2 separate regions of the Homo sapiens genome follow, and region 1 is linked to region 2. Evidence: fine-mapped expression QTL. A gene starts in region 2. The other region holds a variant in brackets. All regions are shown on one strand. Distances are between the middles of the regions.

What was found.
Region 1: its variant is fine-mapped to the expression of CD82 in T cells (TOPMed, PIP 0.99).

The regions. Positions count from the first base shown.
Region 1 is chr11:44,594,806-44,600,175 of GRCh38, reverse strand. CD82 (CD82 molecule) reads right to left here. Exons shown (of 10, transcript NM_002231.4): 4 at 1-18. Among named protein-coding and RNA genes, the nearest start is that of CD82-AS1, 7.8 kb to the left of the region's middle. RefSeq lists enhancers at 805-1,305, 1,306-1,806, 3,132-3,371, 2,795-3,374, 3,375-3,953. The variant C/T (reference allele first, on the strand shown) is at 3,007.
Region 2 is chr11:44,563,036-44,568,405 of GRCh38, reverse strand. CD82 (CD82 molecule) reads right to left here and starts at 2,743. Exons shown (of 10, transcript NM_002231.4): 1 at 2,670-2,743. RefSeq lists enhancers at 1,655-1,724, 2,230-2,730 and a silencer at 2,645-3,244.

The DNA of each region.
Region 1 (5,370 bases), 32 kb before region 2:
GATCACTGCGCCCAGGATCTGGAAGGAGAAGGGAGCAGTTAATGGGGAGCCAAGAGCAGATAGCCCTCCCCCTGCCAGCTGTCCCTGGAACCCAAGTCAGGGTGGGCAGGGCAGGGGGCCACAGAGGGCACCACATCCACCCTTCTCCAGCCCAGAGATGTCCAGATGGCCTCCGGTCCCACATCGCAGCAAGCCAGACACCAGGACCCTGGATAGGGAATCCCTCCTGCCTCCCATCTTGCCCCCCTCCACCATGTGTGATTCAGCCAAGCCTCCTGGTGCAGCCTCCTGCCAGGGGCACCCTTCCTGCCACATCTCCTGGCTCTTTTCTCAGCTCATCCCCCCGACTCCACCCAGTTCAGGGCCTGGGAGCTTCCCAAACAAGAAAGGCTCTGAGGAGGACCCTCCGTGGACTTGAACATCAAAGCCCAACTCATCCCCAGGTCTGAACAACAGGGTCACCTGCCACAGGAGCCTTCTCTGACCCCCTCAGGCAGACTCGGGTGCCCCCATTCTGCAGCAACCACTGTCCCACCCTTCTTAACAGTCATTCCGACTGGGTCTAACTGCTGTGTTGGTTTCTCTGGCTAAACTGTGAGCTCCCTGAGGGCAGGGCTGGCTGGAGGCAGCTCTGCATCCCCAGCAGCTCTACAGCACTGGGTGCTAAGTGGCTGGGGGAATGAATGAGCTGATGAACCAAACTGCAAATGCAGGACTAGAAAGGGAAATGAAGGTCAGGCCCGGTGGTTCATGCCTGTAATCCCAACACTTTGTGAGGCCCAGGCAGGAGGATCACTTGAGCCCAGGAGTTTGAGACCAGCCTGGGCAACACAGTGAGACCTTGACTCTACAAAAAATTTCAAAAATTAGCCAATGTGGTGGTGCATGCCTGTAGTCCCAGCTACTGGGGAAGCTGAGAAGAGAGGATCACTTGGCCCCAGGGAAGTCAAGGCTGCAGTGAACTGTGTTCATGACATGACCTGGGTGACAGGGCAAGACCCCCTCACTCTGCCCCCCACAAAAAGGAAAAAATGAATGAGGTGTTACAAATAAGGATCCCAAGCCCAGGGATTCCCTGCCTCTCTCCCATCTACCAGGGCTGAGCTCATCTCCCCAGGTGGAGTCCCAGCCAAGATCCACCATCCCATAAAGCTGGCAAAGGCTGGGGAAGTGCCTGCCATCTGGGCAAAGATGCAGGTTCCCTTTGGAGGTGGGGGTGGCCCTGTGTCAACCCACAAGGCTGGCCATTAGTGGGGGCCTGGACTGGGCCCACCTGGTGGATGACCCGTCTTGAAACTCCCACCTGTATCACAGCCCTGGGTTCCCACCTCAGCCATCATCCCATAATCTCAGGTTGGAGGCCAGCAGCTGCCATAGAGCCCCGAGCCTGGGGCTGGCCTGGGCACAGGGTCTCCATCAGAATCATTCTATCATTATCAAAGACCAGAGCCAGGACCGGCCCAAGGCACGAGGCACCTGCCTCAGGTGTAACACATGAGGAGGCACCAAAAACTCAGGCGGGTAGATCACCTGAGGTCAGGAGTTTGAGACCAGCCTGGCCAACATGGCAAAACCCCGTCTGCACTAAAAATACAATTAGCTGGGCGTGTTGATGGGGTCCTGTAATCCCAGCTACTCAGGAGGCTGAGGCAGGAGAATCACTTGAACTCAGGAAGCGGCGGTGGCAGTGAGCCAAGGTCACGCCACTGCACTCCAGACTGGACAACAAGAGTGAGACTCCGTCTCAAAAAAAAAAAAAAAAAAAAAAAAAAAAATTAAGGCCAAAAATCCATGATAACTGAACTATTAAACTTTGAAATAAAATGTTGACAGTATCAGTATTATCAATGTTTCCTTTTGCCCCAGGGCCCAGGTGGCTCAGTAGGGGGTTGCCTCTCTCCCTTTACCCTTGTACTTGCTACCTTAAAGACCACTGTGACTGATGACTACAACCACAAAGGCACGGTGACCACCCCACGTCTGCCCCCCAGTGTCTCCCACCAGAATCATCACTGAGGTATTATCTGTCCTCTCCTCTCTCCCAGTGAGACGGGCCTTGTAATTGACCTCATTTTATACACACGGAATTTTATATGAGGCCTTGATTTTATCCATCAGGGACTGGAAGCCAGATGGTGGCAGGTGAGCTATAGGGATATTTTGGATCCATCCTGGGCCTTCACCCAGAAAGCCAGTCTCGGGACAGAAAAGCCCCTGAGACACTGGGGAGGAGAAGAGTCTGCTGGAAGGTGGGTCCACCTTAATTTGCACAGCTGGGGGAAATGGGGGCTTTCCAGGACCTGGGAGTTTGGTTCCCCAAGACCTGCAACCCTACCCAGCCCACAACCACCCCACAGCACAGCGAGGCAGGGGCCAGTGCTCAGGCCCACGTCTGCTCCCTCTGCATCTCAGACCCATGTGGGCAGAGCCCCTGCCCCATTCCCTCCCACATTCACAGGGTGGGACAGGAGGGAGGACAGCCCCTACCAAAAGGGAATGGGAGGCAGGACAGAAAATCCCCTCTTGGCACACATAATCCCAAGTAGATCAAAACCCCACACTACTCAGCTGGCTCCTCAGCTTGCCAAGAGGAACCCAGAGAGCAAAGTCCCCGGGGCTACCCATTCAGTCCCTCTGTAGGTCTGATGACCCCAGCCTGATGGTCAGATGTGGCTGGATTAGCCACGGGGCTGTGGCAGAGCCAGAAAGGAGGCTGGGCAGCCTACCAGAATGGGCAAGGCACCATGGCACCCCCTTTTTCTCTGTGAACCAAGACTGGAGCTGTGGGGCAGGCCCCATGTTAATCACTCCCCCAGCCCTTCCCCAATCCCCAGATGGGACCCATCAGGAGCCAGGACCCTCAGAGCAGTGAGCGTCCTTCCCCAGCATAGCCACAGCACCAGTGCCTCTGCATTCCTTTGGACCTGAGAAAAGTGGCAATGCGCTGGGGAGTCTGGAGTCCAGAGGGAGTACAGGCAAAGACATACAGGTGCACATGCACGCAGG[C/T]GCGAGCACACATAGCAGCCACGGGGATTTTTCCAAACCACAAATCCAACCACGAAACCCCTCCCAATGTGCATAAAACAAAGAGGCAGGCTGGCCGGGTCTATGCCTGGGGAGGTGCACTCTGCCTCCACCGGCTGCCCCTGCTGCCAGGATCCCCCTCTCCAAAGCCACACCCAGAACCCCAGGAAGCCTTTGCTGACCTCCATGACCAGGCCAAGAGCCTCATCTGCTTTCCGAAGAGCCTATCTGTTCCTAGTACCCCCAACAACTGCAATTTTTCATGCATTTGAGTAGTTATTTGATGGAAGCCCACTGCTCCCTAGGACACAAGCTCCGGAAGTATAGCAATCAGGGCTCTTCCGCCCTGAACATCTGAAGATGCTGAGGTGTCAGATACACATTTGCTGAGGAGTAAACAAGCCCGTTCTGCCTCCTCCAGCCCTCCTCTTTCACTCTCACCCTCCTGTCATACAAGCTGCCCCTCCCCCCTCCACCATCCTGATGGGTCATCCTAGGCCCCAGTACACAGACAGTTAACACCTGACTCCTGCCAGCCCCTGGAGGAGCCAAAAGGAGGCCAAGCCCTGGCCAGAGAGCAGCTTTTCCAGTCCCTGGTTCCACAGGGCAACTTGCGAGCAGGACAGAAAGGGCCACCCTGGCTGAAACCACCAACCCCACTCCCTTTCTCTATGAGGGTCTCCCCAACCCCCACTGCATGAAGGAAAGTTTCTTTATCACTGAAACCCAAGCTCCGTGATCTCCTAGGCCAGAGCCCAGGCTCCTCTCTCTAGTCCCTAAAGCCCCCAGGGATAGAGCTACAGTGCCCACGCACCCCTTCCCCCGAGTCCTGGCCCATTGGCCTTTATGCTGGGTCTCCGCCCAGACACCAAGTGCTTGCCAGGAAAAGCTTGGCTTTGCCTGCACAGGCAGCTGCTTCCCAAAGTCCTAGGGCAGCCAGGAGAGACCTGACCGCCAAGCTGGGGAAGCCCAAGCCCGGCCTGGGGTGGGTTCCAGGCCCGGCTGCCATGAGCAGAGGGCCAGAGCCACAGTGGGGCCTCACAGGGTCCTCCAGGAGGGAGCTAGGGCCGGGGCCAGGGTGGAAAAAAAGCAAGGCAGGCAGCGCCAGGGCTTCCTGTGTGTGTGCATGCGTGTATGAACACTTGTGTGCGGGTGCCAGGAACACATTGTACATGTCTGTGCATTGGGTTAAAGCTGTGAAGGGGGAATTTTTAAAATTCTTTTTTTTTTTTTTTTTTTTTTTGTAGAGAAACAGGGTCTTGCTATGTTGCCCAAGCTGGTCTAGAACTCCTGGACTCAAACAATCCTCCTGCCTTGGCCTCCCAAAGCACTGGGATTACAGGCAAGACCTACCATGTCTGGCCAGAAGGGGAATTTAGAATGATTCTTGTTTATTTCCCAAACTTCCCATAAACTATGTAACTTGTAATGTAAACCCCCTGTTCCCCAAACAAGTAATTAATATCTACCGTAGAAAATTGGGAAAATACAGAGATGCATAAAGAATAAAATCAAAATTCCCAAGAATCCCAACATTAACATTGAGGTATTTTCTTCTCCTCTCAAAAATACTCACTTTTTAATGAATACGTACATTTAAAACTTTGGATCATAAGAAACATCCTACTGTACAACCTGATTTTTTTTTAACACTATAGGGTTAAACCGTCAACACAGGGAAGCCAGCGCTCCCAACACTACTCTGAGGCTATGAAGTCCTCTCCAGGGCACTGCCCCCCAACAACACACTCTCACTCACACACACACCCCACCATCCCAGCAACTCCAAGGCAAGAGGCAGTCCATGCCAGGCCAGAGAGGAAAACCGAGGCCCCAGGAAAACCAGCAGTCAATGTCCACAGAGCTGACATCCGGATGGCCCATCTGCTGGGGTGGGTCTGGGGAAGGAGGTATGTGCCCTTCACTGGCCCCACGCCTGGCGCCCTCTTGCTCTCCCTATGAGAGCTCAGGGAGATACCTTCCCACGACAGGGACGGGGGTGTGATAGGGGCAACTGGGGCCTGGAACTGTCACAGGTCAATTCTTCACATGGGCAGGGTGGGGGCCAGGACAGGACTAGAGAGATGCTAAGAGGCTTCTTCTAGCAGCTCCTGCTGTTGAGTTAGGGGGATGCCCAGGGGCTCTCCTCTCCTTCCCCATACCCACCGCCAGCCCAGGCTTTGGGTGATCTAGGAGAGGGGAAGGCCGGGTCAGGAATCCAGTGCTTGGTCAAAGGACCAGCTGGGAATGGCAGGGAATCTCCTCACCACCCCAACTAGGTTCCGTTGGAGATAGTTCGTCCTCAGTCCCTACCCACCAAATCCCCCCAATCCCCGGCCCGGTCGG
Region 2 (5,370 bases):
CCCAATCCAGCCACCTTCCTGAGACCCTGCTATGTACCAGACAGGATAGGGAGGAGAAAGAAGTGCAAATGTGCTGGAACAGTCCCCTCCCACCCCTCCAATGGTGCCTTTGCTCTCCCTGTGGCTGGTGTCTCTTCCTTCACTCCCAGTTGCAGACATCCCCAAAGCCACCCAGACCCCTTCTTCCCAGTCACTGCAGCCATTGGTTCATTATCCCTTGACCGCTGGATCCTCCACCCCAGCACATCTGGTACAGACTGACTTTCCTAAAGTGCTGCTCTGTTGTGTCACTCCTCTCCTCAGAAACCTTCAGTGGCTCCCACTTTCTGCAAATCAGATCCAAAGTTCTTATCCTGTCATTCAAGGCCCTCCGTAAGCTGATCCCACCTACTATTCCCACTGCATATCCCCACACGTTCCCAAACTTCAGCCAGAATGAGCAACCTAGAGGTTTCTCGAGAATTCTCAGGACAGGTTGACCTCCCTGCCTCTGCCTAGGCATTTTCCTCTCCTCAAGACACTATCTTCATTCTGGCTGCCGAAATCTTCCCAGTCTGTAAGGCCCTGAAGATCCCTCTAATCCTTTTTTCATTTATCTTCCATCAGAGTCCCTGGTATTCTTGTGTAAGCCCCTTCCCGGATGGTAAGCAACCTGAGGGTGCAGGCCTTATGTGGTCGCTTGTCATTCATCGAGCAGGAAGTGGGGGTGGTGGTGGGGAGGGCTTTCCATTAAGGCTCACTAGGTAGGCTCTGTTGAAATGAACGTCTCCTCCTCCCCACCTCAGGCACCACCTACCAGACCCTCTCCCTCCCCACCATACCAAACTCCAATTTATGCCACTTCAGTGCTTGAAGAGACTGTGGTCCCATGTTGATCCAAGCCAAACCAGGACCAGGAGCCCAGAGAGAAAGTCCTATTCAAGTCTCACCCCCTCCAGGAAGCCTCCTTACCCCCACCCCCTGCCCTGGCTTCTCAAGTGTCTCACTCTTCTGAACACCTCCCCCTGCCCTACATACACACACAGTCTCCTGCACACAGCGCAGCCGCCAGTCCGTCTCTGTCCCACAGCACTTTCCAGTTTGTTCCATACTGTACAGCTTATCTCCCAGAAGATGCAGGGAGCCAATATAATGCAGCACCTTCAGCGTCCTTCAGTGTCCAACCCTGCTTAGATATCGGGTGCCCACATTGCCCCTCGCCCCCATCCCAAGCCAAGTGTGCAATGGTATAGCTGGATTCCAGCCACCAGGGCAGAACAGACCCATGAAATCTCATCTGGTTATAAGCCCTGGGTGTGACTGATCCTCTCTACAGGGACATGGTAGGGATGGGGGAGCCCTCATTGTCAGCAACTCAGGCCTGGCTAGTTCACCTCTGTATCCTCTAGCTCTCTCTAGCATATAGTAGGTGCTCAGTAAACATTTTTAGACTTATTTAACTCAACACTTACCAACCTCAAGCAACATTACAGAAAACTCAGCCACTCTTTGTTCCAGATGACACAGTCCTCATCCCTCAAATAGAGTGATGTTGGTGGCAGGTGGCAATTTCTGGCTTTCACAAGGTCAGGAGGGGCTGTAGCCAACCCCATCTCTCCAAGAAAAAAAAAAGGCTCATTCCCCATAGGAAGCAAGCCCATCACCTGCCCACCCGCATCAAAGCAGCTGTCACAGAGGGAGGTCTCACTGGTTTCCTGGCACCTTGCTAAGTAGTGTATACACATTATTCTATTTAGTGCTTGCTCCTGCTATTGGATATTGTCATTATCCCCATTTTACAGGTGAGGAAACTGAAGTTTGGAGGGGGAATGGAATCCAAATCAGTTTGATCCCAAAGCCCAAGCCTTGACCACAGAACTATGCTGCCCCGCTACTGGGGCCCAGCACAGAGCACCCACCACCTCCAGGAACAGAACCCGTCAGCCAAGAAATTAACCCCGGGTATGCTTCAAGGGCCCCTGGGGCCCTGGGCTTGACCCTGGGCCCAAGGATTGGTGGGGTTTTCCCTTCTCTTCCCCACTCACCAGTGTAAGAACTGTTCCCCAGTTTCCAACCTCCTGCTCAGGCCAGCTCACCTGGAAAAGCCCCACTGAGTTTCCAACTTGAAGTCTTAGGGGGTCCGGCTCAGTTGAACTGTTAGAATTGGTGGGAAGCAGGTGAGGCGGGAAATGGAACCTCCCTGCTTTGGCCTCCTCTTCCCCAGGGTTGGTGGGTTCGAGCCCCAACCGAGGAAACAGTGCACTCTTTAAAGCAATTCGCTTCTCTCAGTCCCATTTTGCAGGGAGAGAAACTGCAGAGGGCAACGCGATGGGAACACCTGTGGCGACCTGCAGCCTGCTCTCACCTGCCAGCTCTCACCTTCCGGCGTTTTAAGTGAGAAAGGGCAACGGGAGCGTGGAATTCACCTGGTTCACTTCCTCCTGCTGGAACCCGGGAGGTCCAGAGCCAGGTAGAGGGACGGACCCAGGATCACGCAGCTGTGCACGGCCGAGTGTGAGAACTGGGGGTTCAGGACTGGTGGCTAAAGCTCCTTTTCACCCACCAGCTGCCCCGACCTGTCACTAGTTCCGAGGAAAGTTGTCCGAGCCGGACCGCAGAAGCGGGGGCTAAAACTAACTTTGCCTATGGTTGTCCGGCAGGCTACCCCGGCCCGCTGCCCCCTTGCTCACCTGCGGGTTCTGCTTTCTGCTCCGCGCTGCAGGCCCAGCGTCACCCGCTCGTGCCTCAGTCGGCGTCGGACTGCACAGCCCGGGGCTCAGTCACTCCTCGGCCCCCTCCCGGCTGCAGCCGGGGAACGCCGCGGACTCGGCAGGCCCCGCCCCCAGAAGACACGCCCCCTCCGCCGGCCCCGCCCCCGAGCCCTTTGGGAAGGCGGTGCGCTCCCGCCGGCCAGGCCCCGCCCACTATGGCCGTACCCCAACCAGCCTCGCCCCCGGGCCCAGCTGGAGCTGAGGCCCCGCCCCGCTACGGAGTCTCTCCTCTATCCCGGCAGCCCCGCCCCCAGGTTACACTGGGGATTAAGCCCGCCCCGCTCCAGCCCTGTCCACTCACGGCGCTGCCTAACGGTCCCGCCCAGCTCCCGCCTACCTCGTCCTCCCGGTCTCCTCCCGGGCCCTCCCAGCGCCCCCGCCTCCTTCACTTTCTCCTTCGAGCCCACCCCATCCCCCGGCCCTAGTAGGGTGAGGCCACGCCCCTCCCCGCACCAGCCTGGGCTCAGCGCCTTCCTAATCCTGCCCTGCCCTGCCCCTCTCATCTCGGGCGGGTAGCCCTGGGGCCCCCACGCTGGCATTCCAGGGCGGGTGTATCCGGGTGCCGCCGGGGAACGGCGTGGGAGCGGTTTGTGTCCTAAGTCGGGGCCTCTATCAGGAGGCGGCCTGGGCCCAGGAACTTTTTGAAAATACTGACTACCATTGATTGAATCCTTGCCAGGGGCCAGGCTCTATGCCAAGCGCTGAATACAGTTCTAGCCCTTGAATTCCCACAACTCATGGGTACTCTCGTTGCGCCTATTTTACTAATGCGCAGTTTAAGGCTCAGAGAAGGGAAGTCGAGGGCTCTGAATCTCATGGAGGCGGGCGTGAGCGGGATCCAGCCTCAGGTCCTGAGTCACAGGCTTGAGCTGCCCCAGCTTGCCTGGACTGGCCCCTGGGGAAGTAGCCCAGAACAACCAGTGCTGGGGCAGTGCCCAGCAGCTGCCTGAGGTGAGGGAGGAGGTGTGGGTTGATGAGAATAGTGGCAGGAGGGGCTGTGGGCCTAAGCCCTCAAAGCTGGCTTTCTCCCTGAAGAAAAAGTGGCCCAAAATTGAGGTGGGCTGCAAGAGCTCTCTAGGTGGCTGCGGTGCCCACCCTGCGTCCCAGCCCTCTGCCCTCCCAGGCTCCAGAGGACTAGCCTCAGGCAGATTACCTGGTTAATGACCAGGGGCATTCACCTGTGCAGCTGACAAAGCTCTTTCACTTCCATTATCACAATGTCCTCTCACAACACACCGTTGTGGGAGGGTATGATTATGAGCGCTTTGTACGAGTGGAGTAAGGGCGGGAGCTGGATCCCAGCCCAGCACTGTAGTTCTCACAGCGTGGTCCTTGAACCAGGAGCAACATCATCTGGGAACTTGTTAGGAGTGCGTATTTTGAAGCCCCATCCCAACTTACTGAATGGAAAACTGTGGGACAATTGGTTTTAATAAGGCCTCCAGGTGATTCTGAATCACATTCAAGCATGAACCACTGTTGAGCAAACTGTAAAGAAGTCAGGGTGGTCTGAGAATCACACAGACCTAGGTAGCTTCCTGGTTGCGTTTTAAACCCAGGACAAGGCAAGATACTTAACCTCTGGGATGAGCCCTTAAACAGGGAATAATAATAAAATGAGCCATAACAATCATACCGATCTTGATGGTAGCTGTTGAAGATTACATGTGACAGCATTCATAAAGTATTTGGCCCACCGCTTGAATGCCGTACATGCTCAGAAAATGTTCTCTTTTCAGCAAAAAGTCTCCTTCATAGCATTCCCACACCAAGTCAGAAAAGTGAGGCTGGAGAATCCTTTAAACCCAGCAGTGTGTCATACCCGCAGAGAGACACCCTCTATCCTGCAAGTGGTTAAGATCCTAACAAGCTCCTAGATGATGTGGATGCTGGTCCGGGGACCACACTTTGAGAACCACTGTGCCATTCTGTCTTGGGCTGGGTTTCAGATCCCTACCCTACCCAGCCCATGCAAAATGGGCATAAAATTCCTCCTATTCCACCCTACTCCACACCCCGCTCCCTCCGAGCTGGGGGTGTTTGTGATGGTGTATGGCAGATGCTCCTGACAGCAATAACTTGACTTAAGCATACCCTGAGAATGGTCCTGTATGGCAGATGCACCCCAATGTGTGTTTGGAGTTTTGAGCTAAGGAATCCGGGAATGACCAACCTGGAGATTCATTCCTTATCTGTGAGGAACATTTGAACCCCGGCCCATCCTGTGGAATGCAGGGTGTACAGGGGTTCAAAGCTCTTTGTTTGGGGCCAAATGAAGGTTATCAGGTGGGGGTTGTTAGGGGGAGGGTGCTAAGTGAGAGTGATGTATAAACTGCATGCTTTTTGTAAGCGGTTGTGGCTCTCCTGCCCAGCCTGCCATGGGACTGTACAGTTCTCCTGTCCAGCCCACTGCCACCGGCCGTCCCTGTGTGTAAGTTTCCCAATAAAACCCCATGTCCCAGTTGCTGGCTCTGGTCTCTCCTTCAGCCTCTTGAACCTAGTACCATCCCTACTGAAGTTAATAGGGCTCCAGCAGACAGATGGGAACTGGCCATTGGCAAAACAGCTGGATCCCCTCACTGTCCCCTCCCCCCATGAAGACATTCTCTCATATTAGTCC